3 separate regions of the Homo sapiens genome follow, and all the other regions are reported to be linked to region 2. The links are microRNA targets in miRTarBase. Many come from high-throughput screens and were not tested one by one. Region 2 holds a microRNA gene; each other region holds the end of a gene's coding sequence.

Region 1 (7,254 bases), not on the chromosome of region 2:
GTTTGGGATGAGCAGGTCAATAGTTTTGAGAGGGAGTTTGTTCCTTTTTTTTTCTCATTATACTCTTAAATTGTTGTCAGTTATCAAACAAACAAACAGAAAAATTGTTTGGAAAAACCTTGCATACGCCTTTTCTATCAAGTGCTTTAAAATATAGACTAAATACACACATCCTGCCAGTTTTTTCTTACAGTGACAGTATCCTTACCTGCCATTTAATATTAGCCTCGTATTTTTCTCACGTATATTTACCTGTGACTTGTATTTGTTATTTAAACAGGAAAAAAAACATTCAAAAAAAGAAAAATTAACTGTAGCGCTTCATTATACTATTATATTATTATTATTATTGTGACATTTTGGAATACTGTGAAGTTTTATCTCTTGCATATACTTTATACGGAAGTATTACGCCTTAAAAATACGAAAATAAATTTTACAAGGTTTCTGTTTTGTGTGGAAGAGTAATTGATGTTGCTAAGAATGATGTTTGTTTTTTTGGGGTTTTTGTTGTTTTTTTTTTAAATGTTACCAGCACTTTTTTTGTAAGTTTCACTTTCCGAGGTATTGTACAAGTTCACACTGTTTGTGAAGTTTGAATATGAAGGAATAATTAAAAAAAAAAAAACTCTTCTCTTGGTTTCCTATTGTGTCTTCTTTATACTGTAGTTTCTGTTTTAGGCAGTTCTCCACATTCTTTCACACATTGTATTCTATGTCTAATCTGAGATTATTTATCCAAACTGAGGACTCTACCTACAAGGCCAGAAAAACTCTGAGTATATTAGTCTTCTCAATACAAGAAGTAGGAACTACAGACAGGATTGGTGATGTCGAAGTCACTTTGAGGAAATATAAAGCAAATTGGTGTATTGTCTTATACATATTCAAACCTCAAAAATGACAAGGATCACTTATTGCTCTACAAATTGATTCACATTTTTTCCTTTTCCACATGCAAATCACAGTCTGCCTGCTGTGGAAATAATCAATCCCATATTATAACACTATGCCCACCTATTCTTGTTTCCACCCATCTCTGTTATCCATGAATCTATCACTGAGTCTCCTTTTTAACTTTTGGGTTTCTCAGCTCCATATGCAAAAAAGGAAAGTTCATGGCACAAAACATGCCCCTCTTTAATGACTTTGGAGACTCATAAGGGACTCCTATTTGGCCCATAGATTCTTTGTTATAGTGACCCTGGCCATAAAGAGCTCTCTGATCTCATCATTCTTACAGAAAGTGCTAATATGGTGAAGAAAACTTATATCTTGTTTGTCCTTGGTGAAGTCAACACAAATTAAATTCACAATGTCTTCTGTATTTCAGTCAGCACTGTGCAATGTATGAATAAAAGAGAGGAAATTATTTCAGCCATGAGAAGGCTTAAAATCTAACAACTAGACATGAAGAGAGGTTTGTATAAAATCAAGAGCTAGATTGTGCCATTCAGACTCTCAATGCCAAGGGAGTTTCTAAACTAACAGGAAGTTGATAATGGCTAGAGTGAGTCAAGAAAGGGTCCAAAGAATAAGCGGTCTAGTTTGGGGACTCGCAAGAACACTAAGCTTTGAGTTGGAGAAGCTGAGTGTGGACAGACATTTCCACCAGTGTGAGGAGCACAAAAATATCCAGGCATGAGCTTGGGATGGGGAGAGTCATCAAGAGACCTCTAGACTGAAAGGATGTCAATAAATTCCTGAGATTTCAACATTACCACTGTGAATTTAAATATTTACTTCTTGCAACTCAATTGCTGAACTTCTAAGTCAACCTGATTGATAGTCTAGAAGTATAAAGAGGAAGAAAATATTTTCATGATGCATAATTTGTCTCTATATCATTTCTGTGAACCAACATCTTCTTAACAATGCCAGCCAGCTTCACCCAAAGTCTTGGATCTCTCTTTGCACTATCCACACACTCTTAAGTTTTCTTCTGTACCTGTTAAAAACATTGTGGTGCGATTTATATACAGGCTGTAATAATTGTAAATGACACATACGCTACTCATATGGTACTTCACAGTTTACAAAGTTTCTCCTTAATATCCTTCATCTTCACAGTTATACTGTAAATATTGTGATGTAGCTATGATTGCACTAATTTATAAAAACACAGGTTCAGAAATATGTGTTTTTCCAATAAAAAACAATAAACTAGTGCCTGAGGTCAGGTTTTCTGAAATCCAATAATATTTATACCATACCATTATTCTCAAACTTGAGTAATGTGTGTATGCCCATATGAAGGAAAAAAAATAGTTTCACAGACCTCCTCAATGGGAGGCGATAATAATAAAATAATTATTCTTATTATAATATCTAGTAATAAATTCATAATATGCATAATTATTTTATTATAGACATTCTTAAATAGGCTCAAACACAACGACAAGTGAACTTACTATGCTTATATCCCTTGTAGAATTATAAAACTACAAGTTACTAATTAAGTACAAGTAAAACTATAAAATTAGTAATGTCTACAATAACAATGAGTGCATAGAATGATGCTTTCCTGAATCTAAGTCATGGCTCACAAAGTTAAGTGTACTGCACACACCCTTCTGAATACAACATCCCTACACTACAGTGTGCAAAGTAAAGCAATTATCGCTTCACTTTCCTGTTAGTTCAATACTGCAAAGTCTTCCACTTCTCCACCCATCTGGGAGTAAATGAATCATTTATAAATTAAGCTTCTGTGCCTTTAAATAAACTTGATTATAATCAAGTTTATATGTATAAACACAAACATAGAGGCTAAAACCAATGACAACACTCTGTTTTAAGAAGGCTATCAACATCCAGATATAGATGACTTCTTTGAAGATTATCATTTCACTTAAAACACACAATGTTTAAACGCTTGCAGAGAACTTGTGGACCCCAAGGCTGTATCTGCAACTCTTAGCTTTCCTTATATCTCAGTTTTTAAGAACATTGATTGATAGATAATTTCAGATACCTCAGTTGCTCCAAGCCAGTTTTGTTGCCTCCATGAAAACTTCTGTGGCATCATTAGCATTACCTGGTGCACGTGTTCCTGGGGCAGAACACAATAATATTAACCCAGCATCTTGCAGCTCACAAAGCAGTCAGCCACGTTCCTGCCTCATCTTCTTAAGAATCTTAGAAAGATAGTAATATTACCATTTTATAAATGAGGAAATATTTATGAGTCTTTGATAGGTTAAGTGGCTTATCCAAAGTCGTGAAACTAATTGCAGAGCTCAGCACTTGGACCAAGTTTCTAAATTCCCTGTCCACTACACTCCATGATTACTTCTTTTTTGATCTCTGTGAAGTCCATCAGAGTTTTAGTCCCAGAGAAGGTGCTCTTCACAGCCTACATGAAGTCAGAATGAATATAGTCTATGGTAAGTCCTGTGATGACAGTCTATTTCTGCATAACCCCTATGAGTTGCAAATTTCTTGACAATTTTGGCCCTATTTACATGAACTGGACCACTTAGCTGCCTCAGATTTTTTTTTTTGAAAAAACCTGAAATAAATAAATGTACAGCCTGCTTTGACCTCATGGTTTGTCTCGATCAGAGGATGGATATAGGAGAGTAGAGGAGAACCTTCAAGTTTCTTCCTGGTGATAGCCATTTCAAATGCATAACAACTGGCGAGCCATCCAATGTCCTATAAACACAGCTGTCTGTGTTTTCTCTATATGCAAGGCAATTACTAGAATTGGAATGTCCAATATACTAGCCACCAGTCACATGTTGCTATTTACATTTAAATTTGTTAATTACAATGAAATAAAATTTAAAATTCAGTTTCTTTGTCACATTAGCCAAATTTCAAGTGCTCAACAGCCACATGCAGCTAATGGCTACCATACTGGATGGGACAGACATAGAGCATTTCCATAATTGCAGAAAGTTCTTTGGATAGCATTGTCCTACACTACCTTATGCAAATAAATTACCTCAAACATTGAGTATATCGTTGTGACTTCCAGAAAGCTCAGGCTCTTGCCACACAAAAAGCTCCCCTGTACCTCTTGACAGGTGTGACTTGGAGTAAGTGTGGGAAACTACCAGTTACAGCTATGAAGCAGCACCTGAAAGAATCAGGAGACTAAACAAAACTCACACCCCACAAATGACAGCCACACTGCCCATTGCCCCCTCTCTGTGGGGTGAGGTGTGCCCACCAGAATGCTGTCATTGGTGGACCTCACACCCAGCCTCCCTGCCTGTCCAGCTCAGCACTGATGGAATCTGAATGAACCTGAGTGTATGACGACTCATTTCTGGGGCTCACAGTGGTGAGAAATGAAAAGGGGAAAAGGCAGGAAATAAAATTGCATAGTGAGGTCCTGTTCACTCATGAAGACCATCTATCTCAAAGCTCCATGACTCAAAGTTTCTCACGTTTCTTTAGTATAATTCTCAGGATTATAGATCAGACTTGTACGCCCAGGCTTAGAATGTGGTCAGGGAATCAGTAATGTATTCCTCCTTGAATGCTCATTCATAGATTTGTCTATTCGCTCCTCCTGTTAGGGAATCCACGAGGGGACCCAGAAAAGCCTGGCATCGCTTCCTGTCAGCACTGAGTGTTCCCCTTCCTCAATCTTCTCTGTGATGCTTCCCTACATATTTCCCAAAAGACATCATAAGCAGGAAAATCTTCCTCAAACACTATTTTGAAAGAAAAAGAAATGGAGACCAATAGACATAGATAGACACCCTCCCTGGGTATCAGTTTGGCTTGGGTTTAGCTACTAGAGCAGCACAGTCACATAGAAATATGAGAGCCACATATGCAATTTTAGACTTTCCAGTAGCCACGTTAAAAAGATAAAAAGAAGCATGAAACTAATGTTAATATTTTATTTCACCCAATACATCCAAAATATTATCATTTTTGACACACAATATACCAAAACTACTGAAATAGTATTCTTATTATTCATATTAAATCTCCAGAATCTAGTGTGATTTTATGCTTATACCAATTATAACAGCACATCTTGATTTAAACTAACCCCATCTTAAGTGGTTGATGGCCACATGTGGAAAGTGGCTACGTGGTGGATAGCGCATGTCTCCAGGAATCCAACTATGAAATGGTCTTCTCTGGTTCTCAGAGGAGAATCTAGTTCAGTGAGTTCTATTTAAAAAAATTTTTTTCAAATTGAATCCCATTTCAGTAACCTGACCCATTTCTAACATCTATAGGCCCTTTTGTATTTTATCACCATCCCAATAGTGTTTATAAATGTTTCCCAATTACCATAATTATGTTAAATAACACCCAACTCTCAGTCCAACCTCTGCCGAATATACACCTCCTCCAAATCAAAACACTACTCCCTTTTCGTCATTACATTTTAGTTCACTTCCAATTTGTGAATTGTGTTCTATTTCCAACAGATTTGCACTAATTTTGCAAGAAAAATGCTGTAAACTGCCACAGCAAACAACAACATTTTTACGTTCATCTAATCTTTCTTCCAAAGGACTTGGAGCTCTGGACAGATTTCAGTTCATTCTTCCTATGTAACCCATTTGGTAGAAAAGTGAAAAAATAATAATAATAAAAATCCTAGGAGAAATAGTTGAATTGTCTTGTTGCTAAAACAATTGTCAACCCCAGTCTAAGTCTTAGGAAGCAGGACAATGCTTTATTTTTAACCATGCGCAAGACACAACCTTGCTTCACATTCTCTTTCAGTTCCTTGGCCCATGAAAGAAAATCAGTCACCAGTAAATCCAACCTCCCCGCTCATTCCTCTGAGAGAGATGGTGGAAGGATAAAAGTCTTCTAAGATCCAGCCTGAATGCAATTAAACAGAAATAAGCGGTTCAGTTACCCCAACCCCAGCACAAAGTCGTCAGGGAGTGAATAAAAGGGTTCGAAGAAGTTAGTTTGAAGGTGTTTATTTTTTAAACCCTCTATCACTCCCAGCCCCCCTTTTTCCCCTAGGAAGAGTCCCTATTTTAAAAATCCACATTTTCTTTTTAGTGGGAAACGTTCTTTTTTCAAAGGCTCAAGAGTGTATTGATGCAGAAAAGGTAGATCAAGGCCCAAATGCTACGACTTGGCTCCCTGTGTGGGCATGTGCGTTTCCTGGGGCTTCCCCAGCACACACGGCCGGAAGAGGCTACAGGCCTGTATCAGGCTGTCTAATGGATGAGTATGTCACAGCAAAAGGAAACTTGAAATGCCTGCCCAGAGAATAAAATCTGAAGTTTGCTGACTCCCTTGGTGCCAGGGCCTTCTTTGTGGGACTTTCAGCTCCAAGAATTTCCTACAAGTTCCCTAGACAAAACTCCTGCTCCTCCCAGACTAGCCTCAACATCCCCTTGGTGCTCCCAGGCCACTTCATCACAGATAAGCCTATGCCAACTACCTCACCCCAAACTGTCGTCTCTTCCTGAAGGCCTGTGTATGTCTCCTTCTCTCCTTACTATAATACCTTTTCATGACAACATTGTCTCCCCATTTAACTGTAAGTTCTTGAGGGCAGATACCAAGATTTAGTCACTCTCAAATCTCCCCATAGAGGCTGCTACCAGGACTTACTTATAACCTGCCTTTGAATGAGTGAAAGTTACTGAAAATGACGTGAAAAAATGAGATGAGGATGGCTCTGCAGTCATGCCATCCTCATCATCAACCACAAAACCTTGTAGCCCAAAATGCTGGCCATTATGAGGAATGTGTCTCTCAGAGACATAGGATCTGCTCAAACTGCCAGATTTAAAACCAGGTCAAGATATTTTTTAATTTTGCATTTATGATCAAGATCCACGTTACTCACCCTAGGCCTGCCATAATGCAAAATGGAATAGAACGAAAAGGCCAAGGAAATGAAGATGGAGAAGAGGATGACATTTATTCACTCAACTGAACACACACACACATACACACACACACACACACGCAGCACTGATGGAGAGTACAGCTGCTTATATATTCATCTATAATAGCAAAGACAAAAGTGTATCTTCCAGAAGATGCCTCTGGTTGCTAACCAGTCTCTGTGAAGAAGCTGCAGTTACCCAGGCTTCTGTAACTCAGGACATTGAAGTAGTCATGCAGCTCGGCACAGTCCTCTCCCCGCTGCTCTCCACAGAGCCCAGCAGGTGCAGCTTCTGCCTGGACACAGCTTCCTGGGGGTGAGGGAGCACTGGGGCTCCATTCCTCCTGTCCAGCTGATTTTCTCCTGAGGTCACCTTCCACAGAATGGATTCTGAGGGCTTTCTTCTAAAAACAAACAAA
Region 2 (10,548 bases):
GCAGGAGAATGGCGTGAACCCGGGAGGCAGAGGTTGCAGTGAGCCGAGATTGCGCCACTGCACTCTAGCCTGGGCGACAGAGCGAGACTCCGTCTCAAAAAAAAAAATTTGTTTGGTTTTGTTTTGAGACAGAGTCTCGCTCTATCACCAGGCTGGAGTGCAGTGGCATGATCTTGGGTCACTGCAACCTCCGCCTCATGGGTTCAAGCAATTCTCCTGCCTCAGCCTCCCGAGTAGCTGGGACTACAGGCACCCGCCACCATGCCCGGCTAATTTTTGTATTTTTAGTAGAGACGGGTTTTCACCATGTTGGCCAGGATGGTCTCGATCTCCTGACCTCGTGATCCACCCACCTCGGCCTCCCAAAGTGCTGGGATTACAGGCGTGAGCCACCGCAGCTGGCCCAATTTTTAAAATTTTATTATTTTTTTAGAGGTGGGGTTTTGCTAATGTTGCCCAGGCTGGCCTCACACTCCTGGCCTCAAGAGATCCTCCCACCTTGGCCTCCCACAGTGCCAGGATTATAAGCATAAGCCACCGTGCCTGGCCCGTAATGGTTATTTTTATGTGTCAATTTGGCTGGGCCATGGTGCCCAGATATTCGGTCAAATATTATTCTAGATGTTTCTGTGAAGTTCTTTTTTGGACAAGATGAACATTTAAATCAGTGGACTCTGAGTGAGGCAGATCACCCTCCGTAACATGAGTGCCCCCATCCAGTCAGCTGAAGGCCATAATAGAAAAAGACTGATATTCCCTGAGCAAGAAGGGGTTCTGCCAACTGATGGCCTTTGGACTTGAACGGCAACTCTCCCCTGACTCTCCAGCCTGCTGGTCTACCCCATCAGATTCTGCGCTTGCCAAGCCTCTCCAATCACATGAGCCAATTCCCTAAAATCAGCCTCTCTGTTTCCCTGGAGAGTCCTAACTAATACACCTTAAGCCTGTCCCCCTCTCCCTAGGACATGACTGTGAGGGGTGGGAATGAGCCTCCTCAGACCGGGGCTCCCTCTGCCTGGCCCCTCCCACTGGCACTGGAGAAAATAGCTGAGGCAGGAGAATCGCTTGAACCCGGGAGGCAGAGGTTGCAGTGAGCCAAGATCGTGCCACTGCACTCCAGCCTGGGTGACAGAGCGAGACTGTGTCTCAAAAAAAAAGAAAAAGAAACGACACATGAAGCCCCAGGAGGCCGAGGAGCTTGAGACGTGTCGCCAAGTGTGTGCCCATGGCATGGGAGCTGTGTGTGCGGCTGGGTCCTATCTGCTGTGTGTGCGGCTGGTTCCCATCTGCTGTGTGTGCGGCTGGTTCCTATCTGCCTTTATCTGCTGTATTCTGTTCTGGCCCGTTTCCCCACCTCTGCCCCTTTCTGGGTTTTCTTATAATCCAGATGAAATGTCCGCAGCAATAACTGAGAGCCGGTTATGAACCCTCTGGGCAGAGTCGCCTAGGGGCCCTGAATGCTTTTCTTTGGGCTTAATGCAAACAGAAGGGACACAGGATCCTCTGCTGGGTGATGCTTAGCAGCCGGATTATGACTCAGCAGCATTGCAAACACAGGGAAAGACTCAGCATCTCCCGAGGCATTTTATGGCTCTTCCCTCCCAACACAATGTTCCTATTGATACGCTGAGATCATATAAGGGCCAGGCTGCTCTAATAAACAATCGCCTACCTTGCAGAGCACCTCCCAACTTTCCCGTATATCACCCTTTACATTTTTTCCAGGACTCAGTCCCATGCGTTTCTGCGGCACGTGACTTCCCCTATGTCATAGGTGACTGCCGTCCTGGACTTCCTTTCCACATGGTTTCTCTGCTCTGCCCTAATCTGGCCTCATCTCAGGCCAGACCAGCGCCATTTCCTGGCCCTGGCTCCTGGCTGCCTCCAGGCTGCTGAGCTCACCATGCTGGGAGGATGGAGGGCCCTGAGGCCACCAGGGGCTCAGCTGACACTTACCAACAGCCGTCCACCCCACCTCCCACTGCATCCTTCCTAGAGCAGCTGGAGCATCCAATGATAGGGGCCCAGCCTCCTAGGTCAACACAGGCACTGCCTGAAGCAGCCCCCAAGGTGGTCAGGGTGCCTCACGGGGTGGGCTCTGCCAGGCCAAGGGGCAGCTCCCTGATGCTCTGCCGAGGGCCACTTTCTTTCTTTCTTTTTTTTTTTTGAAATGAAATCTTGCCCTGTTGTCCAGGCTGGAGTGCAATGGTGTGATCTCGGCTCACTGCAACCTCCACCTCCTGGGTTCAAATGATTCTCCTGCCTCAGCTTCCCGAGTAGCTGGGATTACAGGCATGCACCACCATGCCCGGCTAATTTTTGTATTTTTAGTAAAGACAGGGTTTCACCATGTTGGTCAGGCTGGTCTCAAACTCCTGGACCTCAGGTGATCCGCCCGCCTCGGCCTCCCAAAGTGCTGGGATTCCAGGCATGAGCATGTGTTGTTTCTTTAGCTGGATGCATGAATGTGCCATTGGGAGCTGCTGTCCATCCTCAGGGACAAACGTGAGGGGAAAGGCATACATGTAGACATATGTACAATCTCTTCTCATTTTAAAAAAGTCACAGCACTTGCAAAAGAATCACTTCTCATCTGTGGCAGGACAAGATTTTTGACATTTGCTTCTGATCCTGTCCTGGGCCTGAGTGCGAGGAGCTCCTCAGACAGAGCCACCTCCCTCACCTGTCCTCAGGCCACGTGGAGGTGAACTTCCAGGCACAAGCACCCCACACCTGGCTGGGGCTGCTCTTCTGGAGTGGCAGGGCCATGCTGAGAAGGACTGACAGGTGACAGTCAAGGCAGCCCTGCCATCACCTTCCTGCACATTCCGGGGTGCAACTCAGCCTCTGTGGTCTGGACTGACATACTTCTTGGGATGCACTTTGGCTCTTCGCAGGATAAATGCATTTGTTTCTTAATAAATACATCTTTAAAGCTGGTCAACATTCGTTTTATCCTGCTACTTAATCTAAGGAGTCTAAGAAGCTGACAAAGGAAAAGGAAAATTTCACCATGGGGGTTGGGGGAAGGCACCATGATTGTAGGGTCTGGGCTTTTTTTTTTTTTTTTTTTTTTTTTTTGAGACGGAGTCTTACTCTGTCGTCCAGGCTGGAGTGCAGTGGTGCGATCTCGGCTCACTGCAACCTCTGCTTCCCAGTTCAAGCGATTCTCCTGCCTCAGCCTCCCAAGTAGCTGGGACTACAAGCACGTGCCACCACGCCCAGCTAATTTTTGTATTTTTAGTAGAGACGGGGTTTCTCCATGTTGGCCAGGATGATCTTGATCTCTTGACCTCGTTGTCCGCCCGCCTTGGCCTCCCAAAGTGCTGGGATTACAGGCGTGAGCCACTGCGCCAGGCAGGTCTAGACTTTTATTCTCTAGCCTCCGAGAAAGTAATTTTACAGCAAGACAGTTGCTGGAAGTCACTGGCACAGAGCTTGAGTGGCCATTATCCTTAAAACACCTGAAAGCCGGGCTAAGTAAACAGTGCCATCATTCAGTCTACCACTGACCCAGACCTCTGCCCCAAGGGCTTCCTGGGCTAAGTAACAGTGCCATCATTCAGTCTACCACTGACCCCAGACCTCTGCCCCAAGGGCTTCCTGCCCATCCACCAATTCTTCTTCTGGGTATGAGACCTCACCTGAAAGAGCAAGAGAACAGAGCTCGGGGAAGTTGAGGGGACAAACGTTCCCCACCAAAGCCACATAGAGAACCACTCTTTCTCCCTTTCTCCTACTTGTTCATCAACAAGTACTCTAACCACCTAGGCCAGGTGCAGAAGCACAGCACAGATGCCCTGCACTCCTGGCACTCTGTGCACACTCCTGCATGCCCTGCATTCCCTGCACTCCTTGCACACTCCCTGCAGCCCTGCACTTCCTGAATACCTTGCACACTGTGCACACTCCCTGCAGCCCTGCATTCCCCGTATACCCAGCAGGCCCTGCACGCTCTCTGTGCCCTGCACACTGCGCTTGTCTCTGAGGCAGTGAGAGGCAGCCACATGACAACACAGTGGGGTCTCCGCCCCGTGGAGGGACTGTGGCTTCTGTGAGCCTGGCAGAAGGGCGTGACCCGCACTTTGGGGTCAGGCAGGAGGAAGGGATGCTTCAGTGAGACCTGAATTGGGGCTGAAGTCAGCCTGACAAGAGATGGCCACTTGTGATTTAGAATATTACAGCATTCTAGATGAGGTATACCATATACATATGAGGTATATATATATCTCTCATCTAGAATGCCGAAATATTCTAGATGACGTTGCCAGTGAGGGAGGAAGAGGAAGATGGAACAACTTGTACTTCTCCCTCCTTCCATCCTCTTCTTCCTCACACTGAACTCCCAGGCTTAAAATAAGAGCTGGCTTCAGTGACTGACACCAAGGGGAGGGCACCTCTGGGTTGGACCCTGAGGGGTCTTTGTGCTCAGTAGAATCTTGGGGGGCCAGCTAGGCAACGCTGCTTGATGTAATGAGGTCCCTCAGGGTCGGCTGCCTACCTACTGTGAAAACAGTTATTTCTGGGGAGAGAGGGCTGTCCCCAGTGGAGAGCCTCAGAAATGAACTCAGCATTTGCAGGAAGTAAAAAGAAGTGGCCTATACCGGAAGCGTAGGTTTGGCCTGGCTGAACCGCAGGGGAGGATCCAGTCTGGACTGGGGGCATGAGATAGCTCTAGCCCACTCCTCAGAGGTCTCTCATTTTGAGTCCCCATTTCAGGGGGATGCTGAGAGCCTGAGAACCCCTGGTCTAGCTGACAAGCTCCTCTTCAGCCACAGAAAGAGGGGAGGAGGCCCAGGTAGGGGAGGTAGGTCCCTGGGTCCCCAGGCAGGTTGGCAGTGGAACTGGAGGAGTCCAGAGGCTTGGCCCCTCCCCCAGTAATGCAGCCACCTTTGACCCCGTGCTTCTTAAAGATAGCTGGGACTGCCCCCACCCTTCCCTAGCCCAGGTCTTGAAGTCCTTCCCATCCTTCCCACAGTTCCGATTTCGGCTTCTAGCCCATCCCACCCAAGGAAGCTCAGCACACTTGTCTGCGCCCCCTTTCTCTTACATCCTCCTCCTGTCTGCCACTCCCCATTGATTTCTCTTCCTGCCTCTTTCTCTCTCCGATTTTCTCCACCAGTGGGTGCAGGTTCTGCTCAGTCTTCCTGCCTGTCCTCTCCGGGGGCCCCCAGAACTAAGCTGAGCCTGCTCCAGCCCCATATTTTACCGCAGGAGGTTGGCTTCCTTCATGGCCAGGAGGAAGTGGTGAGGGGCAGCTGGCATGCCTGGTGGTCAGGGACAGGCAGGGTCTGAGACCCAGGCCAGGCCCCTCTCCCTGAGCAGGTTTCTCCAGATCCAAAAGAAAGAGCTGGCGAGATTGGAAAGGTCCTTTCTAGACCCTAAAGAACCCCTAATAACCCACAGGGCCAGTCTGTGCTCACGTGGCACAGTGGAAGAGAGGACACTATTTTTTTTTTTCTTCTGCTCGGGGGTCCAGTTTTTTCTTTTCTTTTTTTTTTTTTAGTTTTTTGATTTTTTTTTTTTTTTTGAGACAGGGTCTCACTATGTTGCCCAGGCTAGTTTCAAACTCCTGGGCTCAAGCAATCCTCCTGCCTCAGCCTCCCAAAGTGTTGGGATTACAGGCGTGCGCCACCACGCCCCAGCCTGGAGGCCCAGTTTCTGTTTCAGGAAGTGACCTCTGAGCCAAACCATTTACTCACCTCCTTCTCCATCTTTCTGCCCTACAGCCCACTTCCTCCAAATGCAAAAAGCTGACAGGACACTGTCCCTAAGTCACCCCATCACCCAGCCCTGGACAAGTCCGCCTGGCAGTTTTGAAAACTAGTCCCATGGGCATGCTTCTGAGTGCTGTGTCCTTCCCGTCTGACTGATGGCTCTCAGGCAGCACAGCCCTCCGAGGTGGTCAGGAGTGGCGGCTGCACTCCGCTGGGAATCTTGACACTGCTCCTTAGCCTCCCCTGTCAGAGGCTGGGCCTCAGAGGAGCCTTCCAGGTCTCCTGGGTGCTCTGCATCCGGCGTGGGGCGCCCACTCCCAGAGCTCCGAGAGTCAGGTTCGAGGCCTTGTGATATCCCCCTTACCTGGTGGTCACTCCATTGCCTGGGTCCTGGGGCGCCTCCCTTGGCTGGCGGGGGGTCCCCGTGGGGGCTGGGCGAGGCTCTTCCTGGCGTCCTCTTGGGAGCCACTCTCCTGGCTTGGCGATGATGGCTGCTGGGGAGGAGGAGAGAAAGTTCAGTCCACATCTGCTCTGGAGCCCCTCTAAGGATGCCCTCTCGTGGGCTGGGTTGGAAAGCCAAGAAAAGCACGCACCCCAGGCCAGGCCCTGCGGGCTCCCTGGCGCCTGTGGCTTGGGATACTTGTTTACTCGTGCAGCCCGGGAACTTGCCAGGTAGCGGGGGATGGCAGGCACACTGCTGGTGGTGACAGGCACAGCCCAGGGAGGTTCAGATCACCCTGGCCGCTCAGCCTTCCTGGCACCCCTCAGCCTCTGGAAAGCCCTCAGAACAACAAATTGTCTCCCTGGGCCATGGCTAGGCGCCCCCAGACAGAATGTGGAGGCCCATTTGCTTATCTGAAACTCAAATGTAACTGGGTGGTGTGTAGTTTTATTTGCTAAAACCAACAACCTGAGAGGTAGGGTGCTCCTCACCGAGCAGCCCAAGGCTCCTTAATGCTGAACCACTCGGTACACCCAGGGTGGCCAGGAAGTGCCCTAACTCCCAGTGACTTGTGCTGTAGCTGATGCCCACCCAGAACCAGGCCACCCGGGACACGCAGGAGCCCTTCACGGGGAAGCAGACGGAGAATCCCAGATAGCATCATAGCATACGGAGGGCTCCCCAAGGGCCTGGGAACAGATGTTCCTGCATCTCAGATGCCACGCACCCCTTCCCCCACCCCGCCTCTCCTCTTCTCCTACAGCTGAAGGGGTCCATGTCACTGCTGCAGCGACACTGTGACAGAGGCTGCATCCGTGACTCCCTTAGGCCAAGCTCCTCTCAGCTCTTTCATTTTAGCAGCTCCTCTGTGGCTTTGCAATGTGATCTGTTTAATCTTAAATATAAAGGGATCTTCCCTGCAGGTTTCCCTGTAGCAAGGGGCTTTGACTTCCAGATAATTCTCTTTTGACCCAAACGAGAATCTATTTCTGATACCAGAACCCAGCGGGTGGCACTGGGCGGTCTCCACCTGGATCTGGGTCTAGAAATAGAGCTTCAGGACAGGAGGCACATGCTCAGTGTGCTTAGAATAAGGCCAGGAGAAAAAGCGTAGGTGTACAAGAGAATACTTGAGTGAAGTCACACCGAATTGCTGGGCTACACGCAGGGGAACCCCATTACAACGTGTGGAGTCACAAAGCTGTGCCCACGCCAGGCAAGTCCTCTAGGACCAGGACCAGGAGCTTCCCAGGGGGTGTGAGCGTAGGGGACGGGGTGGTCATAAAAAAGGAGGAACTGAGCTGGAGTGTCCCAAGACCATGAGGTGGTCTTGGTTCAACTGTCCCCTTCTCCTCTCCTACTTCCTCCAGCACAGGCCACACTGAAGACTTTCAGAGGTCCCACCAAGAACAAGAGACCAGCTGAGCACGGTGGCTCACGCCTGTAATCCCACCACTTTGGGAGGCTGGGGCAGGCAGATCACTTGAGGCCAGGAGTTTGAGACCAGCCTGGCCAACATGGTAAAACCCTGTCTCTACTAAAAATACAAAAATTAGCCGGGTATGGTAACACATGCCTGTAATCCCAGCTACTCAGGAGGCTGAGGCAGGGGAATCACTTGAACCCCGGGAGGCGGAGTTTGCAGTGAGCCAAGATCGCACCACTGCACTCCAGCCTGGGTGAGAGAGCGAGACTCCATCTCAAAAAAAAAAAAAAAAAAAAACAGGAGACCCCCCTAACTAAGACAGCCAGGAGCTAGGAGATGGGGCAGCCATGGGTGTGCACCGGGGTCTTCCTGGGACAGTAGTATCTCTTGCCTGCTGGTCCATTTCAGACAGGGCTGGGCATTTTAACTCCCAGGGCTATGAAGTCCCAAGGCATGTGATTTTGATATTGAAGATAGTCCTGGTTGGTGGGGAAATGAGAATAGCTTTCCTTAGGCCAACGTTCTGCAAAATGCTAAGCCATATTATTGGCCTTTTCCCTTGGGAACTATTTCCTGTTGGCATTTGGGGCTGTCTTTTGCCTAGAATGTACTTTCTGGGCCTGCACTCAACCGATCAAGCAGTTTGAGGGTCCAACAGGTTCCTCCTCATGAGTTTTCCCTGCGGTGCTGACTGAACGCAAAGCGCAAAGGCTCTTCCTCAAGAAACTCAGCGTGAAGGTGGGGGTTTCCACGGGGTCTCTGGGTGGGGCGTTAGTTCCCAGCACAGGCCAGACTCAGCAGCGAGCTGTGTGCAAGGAGACCTGTGGGGAGCGCTGCCTGGGGCCAGGATGGGCCTGGGGCAAGGTGAGTGAGAGAAGGGAAGTGGAGGGGGCCCCATGCCTGTAATCCCAGCACTTTGGGAGGCCGAGGCGGGAGGATCGCTTGAGCCCAAGGGTTCAAGACCAGCCTGGGCAGCACAGAGAGACACCTCTCTCTACAATCAATCAATCAATCAATCAATCAATCAATTGAAGTGGAGGGGAGGGATGGAGAAGCAGGACTGTCTGGAGGAAGTCAGAGCAAGCTCCTGAGCAGGGAAGGAATGAAGCAGAAGGCAACATGGCTCAGGGGTGCCCATGCCCAGCCCAGCACTGCCCACTCCCTGCTGTCCCTGCTGCTCATCCCCCTCCCCCTCATTCATACCCTGGCTTAATGGACTTAACCGCAGTCCCCCTATCTGCAAAGCCCAGATGGAGCACAGAAGCAGAGGGCTGTTTGCCATCCATCCCTTAGGCAGAGGCAGGTGACAGGACAGGGAGAGGGGCAGGGAGGCCAACTGGGGAGACGCAACAGGCCGTGGGCAGGCCTGTCTGAAAGAAGGTCAGAATGGAATCTACTCCAAGCGTGGCAAAGGCTTACTCATGACCCAGAGGAAACTGCACCTGGGGCTTGGTTTTTCCAAAGGAAGAACTTTTTGTCAAGTAAAAGGATTTTAAAGGAGACTAAGAGGGCCAGGCATGATGGCTCACGCCTGTAATCCCAGTGCTTTGGGAGGCTCAGGCAGGAGGATTACTTGAGACTAGGAGTTCAAGACCAGCCTAGGCAACAGCAAACTTCGTCTTTACAAAAAATAGAAAACCACTTTGCCTGGTATGGTGGTGCATCTGTAGTGCCAGCTACTCAGGAAGCTGATGCGGGAGGATCGCTTAGGAATGTGAGGCTGCAGTGAGCTATGACTGGCCACTGCACTCCAGCCTGGGGGACAGAGTGAGACCTTGTCTCAAAATAAAATAAAATAAAGTAAAATAAAATAAAATAAAAGGAGGACTAGGGGTGTTGGCCTGAGGCTCAGAGCGGGCCTGGCAGGGCCAGGGAGGGCAGTGACTATTCCTGGTCTCTGGCAGGTGGAGAAGGGCAGGGCTGCGTGGGTCCGTGTCCTGGGTCCCAGCCAGGCTGAGCCAATAGGAGCAGGCTTAAGGAAGGGACACTCAGAACACGGTCTCAGCATTTGGGGCAGGTTAATGGGGGCACTGACAGCGGGATTTGGGAAAAGCACTGCTCTGCCTCCAGCCGGTCCATCTGGGGGCTGGTGGGCAGCTGCTGCCTCCCTAGGAAGAAGCACTGGCAACCGCCCGTGACCACCAAGGCTGAGTGTCCTGGTGGGTGCCCACCCTGTTCATGCAAGAACCCGGAATGTGCCTGGGCCCAGACTTTGTCAGGGCTAAAGTAAACTGTTCTTGAAAACAACAATAACATCAACATTGCAGCAGCTGCTCCTTGGCCATTTCCATCCATGCCAACCTCAAGTGCCTCCGCCCTGCAGGTAACAGCATGACAGCTTCCCAAAGGCACGTCCAATCAGTGCAAAAATAAAGGGCCTCTCAGTGGTCATTTTGGTAAAGCAAGGATGTTACCGCTACGTTACCCTGAATGTACTGTGGAGCCTTTCAGGAAGTCCAGGCCTAAGAACTTGAAATGTTTTAACTCAATGGCATTCAGTCAAATTGGCAAAACTTTTCAGACGCCCCCTAAGACCTCCACCCTGGCAGCAGAAATCTCTGGATAAATTACTAAGCTGCTCACCTTTGGAGAGCATATTAATATTTACAGCTTTAGTAAAGCACATGTAAAATAACTGATGATCAACGCTGGCAAAACCTCTGAAACTGCTCATCACCAAGAGACCCAGGAGTTGCAAATAACCCAGCCAGTGCTGACTCGTCACTAGCTACCGCTCTGCACCTGGGCCTGGAAGCGTCTGAATCCAATTGTGAGCAGATGCAAGTTCTCAGATGTTTCTCAGACAGGAATCCAACCCGTTCCTCTGTTGTTTTTCCTACTCAAATGGAAATTAGAGTCTTATCTGAACTGCTCATAATCCTTTTAATTTCCTTTCAAAAATTAAAAAAAATACTTTGTACATTTCTGATTCAAAGTATATATATTTTTTCTGGCATCTAAAA
Region 3 (10,548 bases), not on the chromosome of region 2:
CCTCATAAGGTTTGGAGGTATTAGTAGTATATCTAAGGTACCTAGCATATAGTCAGTGCTCAAAAAACAGAAGATTTACTATCATTCTGAATCTACCCTACATTCCCTCCTCCAAAACCCAAGTCTGAAGCCCAAGTTTCTGGTTAGGGCTTCCTGCAGTTTCCTCAGCTAACTCTTCCCCTAGCTTCCAGGATAAGCAGCCCTTGCTGCCACTGTACCTGGGATGTCTGTGTGTCCCCATCTCTCCAACTCCCTGCTGCTATCAGATCACCTGGGACAGTGTCTCAGATAAAAGTCCCCAAAGAGGGTCTTTCTGTTTAGCAAATAAATGGCCAAAAACCATTAAGTGAAATACTTAAAATACCTCCCGCCCTTACCTTTATACAGCTCCTCATTATCCATCCTGATACCCTCCTCTTATGGCAGAAAGGCACAAAGGGTGCATGTGCTGCACATGCGCATGCACACGCGCACGCGCGCGCGCGCGCGCACACACACACACACACACACACACACACACACACCCGTTGAGAGATATTCTTCACCTGTGAGCGTAACCTGAATACGCCCAGATTTAGCAACAGCTGTTCCTGCTAACAGTCATCCTCCCACTTCCCTGCCCCAGTCCTGTGATGCTGGAACAGAGGCTGCCCCTACTCAGGGTTCCCTGGGGGGCAGCGTCATCACTAAGCAACTACTACCTCCATTGCTTTGTCCATCTTAGCCCCAGGACAGGACTGGAAATGGCTCTTCGTATTGGCTTCTATAGCAGGGAGCTGACTGTTGCTGCTCAACTGCTCCCTCTGGAGGGGGCTGTCTGCTAATGACAAAGTAGGCCAGAGACCCTTGCTGTCTGCAAGGGGATTCCTGGGCATGGCAGGAATCCTTGGGAGGAAATGGCAGGGCAGAGTATTGCACAGTTCTTGTCCCTGGAGCACATGTGTAACCATCCTGTCTATGCGCAGCATGGTACTGGTGTGCTTTAGTTTTCCATTCAGCATCCAAGCTGATTGGTAACTGGGCAGGCCTGCAGGCATTTCAAATCCCTCACATTTTAACCCTTGGAAAGAGATAACCTGCTCCAAGAGGAGACAAAGATTCTCTGCTTGACCAAACTTTAGTCAGGCTCCTGAACCTCCTCCTAGGTTCATCTGTGCGTGTCCTTGTAAAATTGTTTTAGCAAAGAACCCTGCTAAGTTAGTTTGGCAAAAGAACTCCCCCACCTCAGTATCAGATCATCCTTGATATCTGATCAAGTTCCTTGTCCTCCGCCAGCCCTCTGGTGATGTCTGATCATCCTGGCCTGTCTTCAGCAAGAATCCTGTTAGGTCAGTTTAGCTAGAATCCTCCTTATCCCTGACGTTTCCTCCGAGTGATTTTCAATCCACTGACCTCTGCTCTACTTCTGGGCTATAAATACCCACTTGTTCGTCTTGTACTCAGAGTTGAGCCCAATCTCCCTCCCCAACTGCAGAAGTCTCATTGCAGCGGCCCCGATACCTACCGTGATGGTTATGAGGAAGTCTTCCTTCACATGCTTTAAACAAGTGTCAGTGAATGATTTTTTTCTTTAACAGAGTAGCGAGATTCTGAGTATTCTTCAGAAACACAGGAGAGAAGATTTATTTTACATCATCAACATTGCAAGATTTCAGAATGCACAGTATTAAACTTGGCCTTGGGGTGAGAGGGAGGAGGACGGGGAGGGATAAAATTGCAGCTTTCAAGGGATCACAGGTTGAGATTAAACCTGCACACAGGAAACAACCAGAAAACAACTCCAAACCATGAATCAAGCCATGTGCAACGTAGGACATCTAGTTCCACAAAGTGATGGGGGGATGAGCACAGGGTTCAAGTCTGATCATTGGCAGAAGCCTAGTCATAATAGGGTTGCCTGCCATTCACTGAGTTTCACCCAGCTGGTACTAAGCCCTTGCATAGATGAGACCATCATTATTCAACAGCCCAATGAAATAGGTACTTAGCCGTCCCATTTTACAGATAAGAAACTGAGGCTAATAGAGGTGTAGCAACTTACTCAAGAAAGTTAAGTTGCAAAGTCGGAATTTGATCCCAGTGCTAACCTTGAAGCCCTGTTTGTAACCCCTATGGCACGCCACTTCTCTTTACATAAAGAAGAATTTTGATCTGAACTTTGCAAGAGAAAAGACTGGTTGGAAAAAAAAACAGAGGGCTGCTCTGAGGAAGAATAGTATGTAGAGGAAATGGCATTTTCAAAGGCTCAAGAGCGCTAACAGGCCAGATGAGAGAAAAATGTTTGAAAAGATCAAATGTTCAGCCTTCCAGGCACTCAAAGAAGAAGATAAATGAAAATGGGTCTCCCAGGTGGGCACAGTGTTTGGTGTGTGTGTGTGGTGGGGGATGGGAACTGGAGACTACTCATTGAGAACTGCACTGGGCTGGATATTTGGTTATTTGTGAAGACTTCAGAAAACAAACTAAGCTAGGCTGATATAAACCACAGGGCAGTCAAGCTTGCTTCTCAACTCAGAGTAACCCAGTCTCCCCTCCATCAAGGCCAATGACTCTGACAAAGGAAACATGGGTAAGGAGACCTGAAGGTGAGAAACCAAGAAACATAACACCTGCCCCTGCCACCCCTACCACCACCAAAGCTCCAAGAAACAATGTGGGAGCCACATGCAGGCAGTTTCTGCAGCACTGGAGGGATTGCTCTAGCTTGTACTTTATGATTTAGATTAAATCTACTTTAATACTCAGAGTCATTCTGTCCTCCTAGGCCTCTGAGTCTGTGATGGGAGGGGCTGCCACAAAGGTCTCTGAAATGCCTTCAAGGCCTTTTCCCCATTTTCTTGGCCATTAGCACTTGGCTCCTTTTTACTTATGCAAATTTCTGCAGCCTGCTTGAATTCCTTCCCTGAAAACGGGCTCTTCTTTTCTACCACATAGCTGGCTGCAAATTCTCCAAACTTTTACGCTCTGCTTCCCCTGTAAATATAAGTTCCAACTTAACATAATTTCTTTGCTCACAAATATGAGCATAGGTTGTTGAAAGCAGCCAGGGCGCATCTTGAATGCTTTGCTGCTTAGAAATTTTTTCTGCCAGATACCCTAAAATCATCACTCTCAAGTTCAAACTTCCACAGGTCCCTAGGCCAGGAGCACAATGCAGCCAAGTTCTTTGCTAAAGCATAACAAAAGTGACCTTTGCTCCAGTTCCCAGTAAGTTCCTCATTTCCATCACCTCCTCAGCCTGGCCTTCACTGTCCATATCACTACTGGCATTTTGGTCACAACCATACAACCAGTCTCTAGAAAATTCTAAACTTTCCCTAAAGAAAACAGGTTTACAAAAACTGCATGTTCTCACTTATAAGTGGGAGCTAAATCATGAGAACACATGGACATGTGGAGGGTAACAATACACACTGAGGCCTATCAGAGGGTGCAGGGTGGGAGGAGGGAGAGGATCAGGAAAAATAACTAATGGATACTAGACTTAATATCTAGGTGATGAAATAATCTGCATAACAAACCCCATGACGCATGTTTACCTATGGAACGAACCTGCACATCCTGCACATGTACCCCTGAACTTAAAATAAAAGTGTTTTTAAAAAGAGGTTTAATTGGCTCATGGTTCTGCAGGCTGTATGAGAAGTGTAGTAGATTCTGCTTCTGGAGAGCCCTCAGGAAGCTTCCTCTCATGGCAAAAAGCAAAGGGGGAGCGAGGCATCTCCCATGGTGGGAGCTGGCGCAAGAGGGGTCAGGGAGATGCTGCACACTTTTAAACAACCAGAACTCATGAGAACTCACTCACTATCATGAGAACAGCACCAAGAGAATGGTGCTAAACCATTCATGAGAAATCTACCCCCATGATCCAATCACCTCCCACCAGCATTGGGGATTACATTTCAACACGAAATTTGGTGGGGTCTCAGATCCAAACCATATCACAGAATTTTAGATCTAAAAGAAATTTCAAGTACCATTTAGTCACCAGCACCACGACCATAGCCAGCTGTCCCAGCCACACAAGCCCTGCCCCATCATGCTCCCTCCTCCCCCTAGCCATGTTAGATTGTAACTGGACTGAGTCCAGGCTAGGCTGTAGCTCAGAACCTCCAAGGAGGGGAACTCCACACAACCTCCATTCTGATGTTAACATCATCTATGACCATTTCTTTTAAATGCTGTGGTTTAAACTAATTTTTTTATTTTTCCAATCTGCAAAAGATAGAGAATGGCTCTGATATGGTTTGGCTGTGCTCCACCTAAAATCTCATCTTCAATTTTAATCTGAATTATAATCCCCACATGTTGGGGGAGGGACCTCAAGGGAGGTGATTCGATTGTGGGAGTGTTTTCCCTATGCTTTTCTCATGACAGTGAGTGAGTTCTCATGAGATCTAATGGTTTTATAAGGAGTTTTTCCCTCTTTGGCTCTGTACTTCTCTCTTCTGCCACCTTGTGCAGAAGGACATGTTTGCTTCCCCTTCCACCATGATTGAAAGTTTCCTGAGGCTTCCCCAGCCATGTGGAATTGTGAGTCAATTAAACCTCTTTCCTTTATAAATTACTCAGTCTTGGGCAGTTCTTTATAGCACCATGAGAATGGCCTAATACAGGCTCTCACCTTTAAATCTTTAAGTTTAGTGCTTTTTATAAGATAGACACCCACCAGGCATGATGACTCAGACCTATAATCCCAGCACTTTGGGATGCCGAGATGGGAGGATCACTTGAAGCCAGGAGTTCAAGACCAGCCTGGTCAACATAGCGAAACCCCATCTCTATTATTTAAAAGAAAAGGGGAAAAAAAGGTAGACACCAATTACTAAAAGTGGTTATCTCTAGGACACAAGATAATGGAAGATTTTCTATTCTTTTACATTATTGTATTTTTAACCCATATGTATTCTTTCCACATGTATTAATTAAGAAGCATATTTTTAAAGTTCTTCATGGAGCATTATTTAATTACCTCCTTCCCTCTTTTCTCCAGGCCACATCCTTCTAGTTTTATTCAAAGATTGATAACTCAGTTTTCTCTGTGGGTCAGACAAGTGACAAAGAAGCGAGATGGAGGAAGTGTAAGGATGTGCAGGTGACCAGGACCCTGGTAAACAGCAGGGAGCATGCCTGGCCAAGAGGCACTCAAATCCCAAACTGGGCTATAGGCCACCAGGCTGCAAACCTCCCCCATGAGTGCTTTTCTCCATTCTATAATTCCTGGTTCTTCAAGCTTTCTAAATTAGTGTGCGGAGCCCCAAAAGAGAACACCTTCATTTTGGTGAGCCAGAGGCATGCCATTTCCTGTTGCATCAGTGGTAACTTTGGTCTTATGACAAGCACTCACTAGCATGCAGGATTTGTACCGGCAAAAGGCTGATCAATCTCCTAAGTCCTATGAGAGGCCACAGGAGAAGATTCCCCTCTTCTTGGAGCAAAGATCCCAGGAAAACGGTGATTCACAGACCTCACTCAGCATTAACTAGGGTGCCATGGCAACAGGGCTCCACATCCGGAGCAGATGGTGCGGCAGACTGCCCCTGTCATGCGCTGCCTCTTCTGGAAGTTCTGGCCACCTCACCAAGCAGGCTTGTTTCTGTCCAGCTGGCACAGAGTAACACCTGGTAACTATTTACATGGGTCAAAATATACCCAGAGCCAGCAGATGGCAGGGCCAGACTGAGACGTGGGGAGAGAGGAGGGCTGATTTGGGCTGTCTCAGAGGCAGAGGTGGCAGACAGCTCCTTAGGGAGCACAGACAAGGCAAAACATCGCTCCTGTTGCTGCCTGGTGTCTCAGCACAGCTAGGAGGATGGGAAAGGATCCAGCATGAGCAAAGCTGAAATGATCACAGGCTGATCCTCAGACACTGAGATGAAACAGCATTGGACAAACTTGGTCCCCCTCCCATAGTGCAGGCAGTAGATGCTCCCAGCCCAAGGGACCTGTTGGCACCAGCCATCCTCAGCTCTTTGCTGTCTTCAGTGGGGTGGTACTGCCTGGCGAAGCTGGCAGAGGGGCCACATCAGAGACAAGCATCCCTACAACAGACAAGCAGCTCCAAAGCGCTAGGTTTAAAACCTCAACCAAGATAAGTGGAGAGATGGGGGCTCCCAGGGACAGAGCCAATGTCTTTTTCAACTTTATCCCCAGTGTGCCCCTGGGCTTGGTACACAACAGGCAACCAGAGGCATTTGTTGAGATGAATTGGAAGAGAGTGTGACGCAAATCCAACGGAATGACCTTTGCTTGTGGCTGGGTTTGGGGCGTGTGTATTTTTTTAAGGCAGGATGCCGGCTATAGAACATTTTGTGAGACATCCTGAGCCCTGACAGCACCAGTGAAATTCTGACGTAGTTAGTCCTGGGTGATAAACCGGTGTTTCATTTCCTGCTTTGGAATTCTTTCCAGTCACAAGACCCTCGGTGTCTCCAGGCCCATGGCCAAAGTTTGGAGAATTACACTCATACTCGCCCACGTGGACAGCGACATTCATTTGCCAAATGGAAGGTATTTAGGTTTGGAGTGTTTTCTTCTTCCTTCTCCCTCTTCTTAAGCTTTCACCAGGGAGGTCTTTGGAGGGTGCCATTCTGTAGTGACAAGCATCAGTCATAGGTTGACCCTGAACCTCAGCATCAGCATCTGCACCAATAATCTGGAGATCAAACTAGGCTGAAGGCCAAGGAGTTAGGAGGCACACAGGCTCCCAAAATGTGCTCTGACATTAGCACCAGGCACTTTCTAGAAAATAGTTAGAAGCTACAGGCTAGGCAGGCCAGGTGGCTCATGCCTGTAATCTCAACACTTTGGAGACCAAGTTGGGTGGATGGCTTGCGGCCAGGAGATGGAGACCAGCCTGAGCAACATAGTGAGACCCTGTCTCAACAACATTTTTTTAAAAATTAGCTGGGCGTGGTGACACATACCTGTAGTCCTAGCTTCTCAGGAGGCTGAGGCGGGAGAATCAACTGAGCCCAGGAGTTCAAGGCTGCAGTGAGCCGACTGTCCCACTGCACTCCAGCCTGAGTAACGAAGCAAGATCTTGCCTCAAAAAAAAAAAGGAAAAAAAAGCAGCAGTAGCAGCAGCTACAGGCTAGAGGAGTCAGACAAATGATTATCAGAAGAATACATTTCCTGTTTTCATTTTATTGGGAACTTCAAAGAAAAGAAAGAGAGACGGATTGGTTCCCAAGACAAGCCGTGACGTAGACTCCCAACAAGCTGGGGAATTCTGGACAGCGAAGGGGTGGACAGTGAGACTCAGCACAGCCCAAAGTCAAAGGCATTAGGGTTGTTCTGAAAATAGAGATTCAAGAAGCCCTGGAAAATGCTCTTATCCATGAGAAGAGCACAGACTGTGGGGTCCCACTTCATGGCTGATATCCAGAGCCGCAGGGCTGGCGTGTGGCTCACACAGCTGCAAGACAGGAAAGAAGCGTCAGCACAGTGCAGGGGTAGGCATCAGGAAAGGGGATGCACGTTGCTTTTTAGATTTGCAAGATATGAAGAATGAGTTTATTTGGGAAGTTATCTTAGTTATCTTATTATCAAGTGAGAATGATAACTTACTGGAGGAAAATCTTATTTTTGGAATAGTTGAATGTTTAGAAGTTGTTGCTTCTAATAATACAGTGAAATACTTTGGACTGATGGCTCTGGGAAAATAACATGTCTGTGCTTCATTTTTTTTGTTTTGTTTTTTAATATATATATATTCTAAAGCTTGAGAAACTTACATGTGCTTCACTGCTTGCCAACAAAAAGACAACCCTCTGAAACAAATATTCTTGGGTCATTCTCAGATTTTACTTTAGGAGATATAAAAAAATAAAGACAAATAATTTCTAAAACATTTTTTAAATGAATAAAACAAGGATGAAACCTTGAAGTCATGGAGCCGACAGGGCTCTTTCAAAGCTCAACCAGGATATTTAGTTCTGGGGTTTATAAAGCAATAAGCTGAAGATAATATGAATGGGTTGTCGGGAATCCAGGACTAGAAGTGAGGTTTCCTAACCTGTGACTCCATGCTCTGTCTTCAGAGGATACAGCCTTTTGTAAATTTTATGTTTGATATTGAGTTTTAAATATCCTGACAAAGAGAGCTGAAGTCGGAAGTGCAGGAGACAGTGGCTGGTTGGGCTCCAGCCCACGGGTTATGAAGGTGCAGACACAGTTCTGCTTCAGCAGGGCCGGATTTCCAAGTGCCAGAAATGTCCAGCACCCACCATGAGGGTGGCTTGGATTAGGGTGGACGTCCGCACACGTCCAGCTTCACTGAGCTTTGAAGTAACACAGCACTGCTCTGCCCAGGAGCCTACACAGCTATTTCTTCTCCTTTAATGTCCCTGCACTTCCATACTTCCATAGTGTGTCACTGCCATTTTGTTTGTATGTTCCAATATCAAGCATATATTACTACACAAATCTTTTTTATAAGGTTATTCCTATCTGGGGGAAGATTCCTCCGGGCAATGAGACATGACTAAGGTTATATGGTGTCCCCTGGGGACCCGTCAGGACCAGGTGGAGGCGTTGGGCACTGTGACTGTGACTGTGACTCTCCACTTGCTCTCAGACCGGCCATGTGGGGGCGCTGGTGAGGACAGCAGGCTCTGAAGTCTGCGGGAGGCTCCTGGGCTAGGGGTCTGATCTGCAGAAATGCGGGCAAAGTGTGGGTCTGAAGTTAGCAGTGGAAAAGCACATATGTTTTTAACAAGGAAGCACACACTGCGGTTTAGAAACCTGATTCACTTCACAGACATCCTGAAACATGTCTACAGGGGGCATGCAGACCATCTTAACCATTGTTACTCAGTGTGACTCCGGGAATTTAACACCACAATGTCAAATGTCTTACTCCAGTATCCCATACACATCCAGCCGCTCAAACCAGGGCCAGAGGAGGTAATCAATCATGGATATACAGGTTCCACCAAAGAAGGTGGTGTTCTGATACTCAAGAATCTAAAAATGGAAACAAAGCAAAAGCAAATAAGTTTATATATCTGCTGACATGTTTATAGACACTAAATGTAAATCTCAAATTAATTCCCAGAGAGGGAGAACTGAGGCCTCTCTCCTTCTCCCTCTGGTTAGGAGAATGCTTCTTCTCTTTCTCTGAGGTCTCCTCTGCCTCTTTTAGGGTCACACTCCTGGCCACCTCTGTCCCTTCCCTCCTTTCAACACTAGAGTGACAGTGTGGCTCATCTGATTGAAGAAACTGGAAGAACAACCTCTACAGAGTACCCCAGTCCCTCCCTCTTAGCCTGGAGCAGCTCCTCAATGTGCTAAGCCTTCCAAGGATAAGCTGAGCCCTGGACAGAGGAGGCTCCCCTTCAGGCCAGCACTGCCCATTACTTGAAGACAAGGTGAGCCTCAGCCTGATGTTGAAGGCTAGCATTAGGAACCCCGCTCAGGATCTCCCATTCTCCAAGATCTGCTTTATCAATAAGAAAGGGGATGCTGCCGGGCCTGGTGGCTCATGCCTGTATTCCCAGCACTTTGGGAGGCCGAGGCGGGTGGATTACCTGAGGTGGGGAGTTCGAGACCAGCCTGACCAACATGGAGAAACCCCGTCTCTACTGAAAATACAAAATTAGCTGGGCATCATGGCACGTGGCTGTAACCCCAGCTACTGGGGAAGCTGAGGCAAGAGAATTGCTTGAACCCGCGAGGCGGAGGTTGTGGTGAGCCAAGATTGTGCCATTGCACTCCAGCCTGGCCAAGAAGAGCAAAAAGTAAAAAAGAAAAAAAGAAAAAAGAAAAGAAAAAGAAAAAAAGAAAGGGGATGCTCTAATCTCCATGCCTTATTATTTTATCTTCTCAATTAATTCAAAACTAAGGCAGGAAAGAGCATCCTATTTAACAGGCCCCCTCAAATTCCAACCTGTGTTCTTCTTCTTCTTTTTTTTTTTTTTTTTTTTTTTTTAGATAGGGTCTTGCTCTGTCACTCAGGCTGGAGTCCAGTAGATCGATCACAGCTCACTGCAGCCTCAACCTCCCGGGCTCAAGCAATCCTTCCACCTCAGCCTCCCAAGTAGCTGGGATTACCCCTGGCTGATTTTTACATTTTTTTTGTAGAGATGGGGTCTTGGGGTCTTGCCATGTTGCCCAGGGGTCTCAAACTCCTGAGCTCAAGGGATCCTCCTGTCTTGGCCTCCCACAGTGCCGGAAATACAGGTGTGAGCCACTGCACCCGGCCCCCAACTCTGTGTTTCTATCACACTTTTTTTTTCATTTGAGCTTTTCAAACTTCACATTTGTTGGCCACTCAACACTATTACTTAATGCATTAAAATAAAATTTCTCATTCCCAAATGAGACAAATCAACCCGGAGGGACTGTAAATCAGATGGACTGTAAAGAAAACAAACTCTCAACAGACAGGCAGCCAAAGACAGCCCCAAAAAAGTACCTGCAAATTTAAAAAAGCGAAAGTGTTTAGCAGAGGTTATTGTTGGTACAGGTCTTCCCAAAGAGAAAAGTATGGCACGAATTACCTGCTTCAATCAAGCAAGCTACTCATTTTGACCTATATAACTCATA

Evidence for each region. Region 2 holds the annotated microRNA hsa-miR-4777-3p (AUACCUCAUCUAGAAUGCUGUA, at 4,180-4,201, opposite strand). A microRNA usually pairs through its seed, bases 2 to 8, with sites in the 3' UTR of a target mRNA and lowers its output. Matches are read on the target gene's strand: a 7mer-m8 pairs with bases 2 to 8, a 7mer-A1 pairs with bases 2 to 7 and ends in A, and an 8mer does both.
Region 1: miRTarBase lists TIGIT as a target of hsa-miR-4777-3p. Seed matches in the 3' UTR shown: 7mer-m8 at 6,380-6,386.
Region 3: miRTarBase lists GSTO2 as a target of hsa-miR-4777-3p. Seed matches in the 3' UTR shown: 7mer-A1 at 4,969-4,975.

What each region holds. Positions count from the first base shown.
Region 1 is chr3:114,307,880-114,315,133 of GRCh38, reverse strand. It overlaps TIGIT (T cell immunoreceptor with Ig and ITIM domains), which reads right to left. Exons shown (of 4, transcript NM_173799.4): 4 at 4,846-7,239. The coding sequence ends at 7,003. It overlaps LOC124909411 (a long non-coding RNA gene), which reads right to left and starts at 3,055. Exons shown (of 2, transcript XR_007096008.1): 1 at 2,975-3,055; 2 at 1,722-1,948. ZBTB20 (zinc finger and BTB domain containing 20) reads left to right here. Exons shown (of 12, transcript NM_001348800.3): 12 at 1-634. RefSeq lists enhancers at 6,029-6,208, 6,379-6,428, 7,182-7,254.
Region 2 is chr2:231,356,417-231,366,964 of GRCh38, reverse strand. MIR4777 (microRNA 4777) reads right to left here and starts at 4,257; the gene lies at 4,172-4,257. ARMC9 (armadillo repeat containing 9) reads right to left here. Exons shown (of 25, transcript NM_001352754.2): 23 at 6,082-6,211. RefSeq lists an enhancer at 5,653-6,296 and a silencer at 6,174-6,468.
Region 3 is chr10:104,295,997-104,306,544 of GRCh38, reverse strand. GSTO2 (glutathione S-transferase omega 2) reads right to left here. Exons shown (of 7, transcript NM_183239.2): 6 at 8,861-8,967; 7 at 1,595-7,417. The coding sequence ends at 7,261. Among named protein-coding and RNA genes, the nearest start is that of ITPRIP-AS1, 22 kb to the left of the region's middle. RefSeq lists enhancers at 5,295-5,794, 5,795-6,296, 6,113-7,312.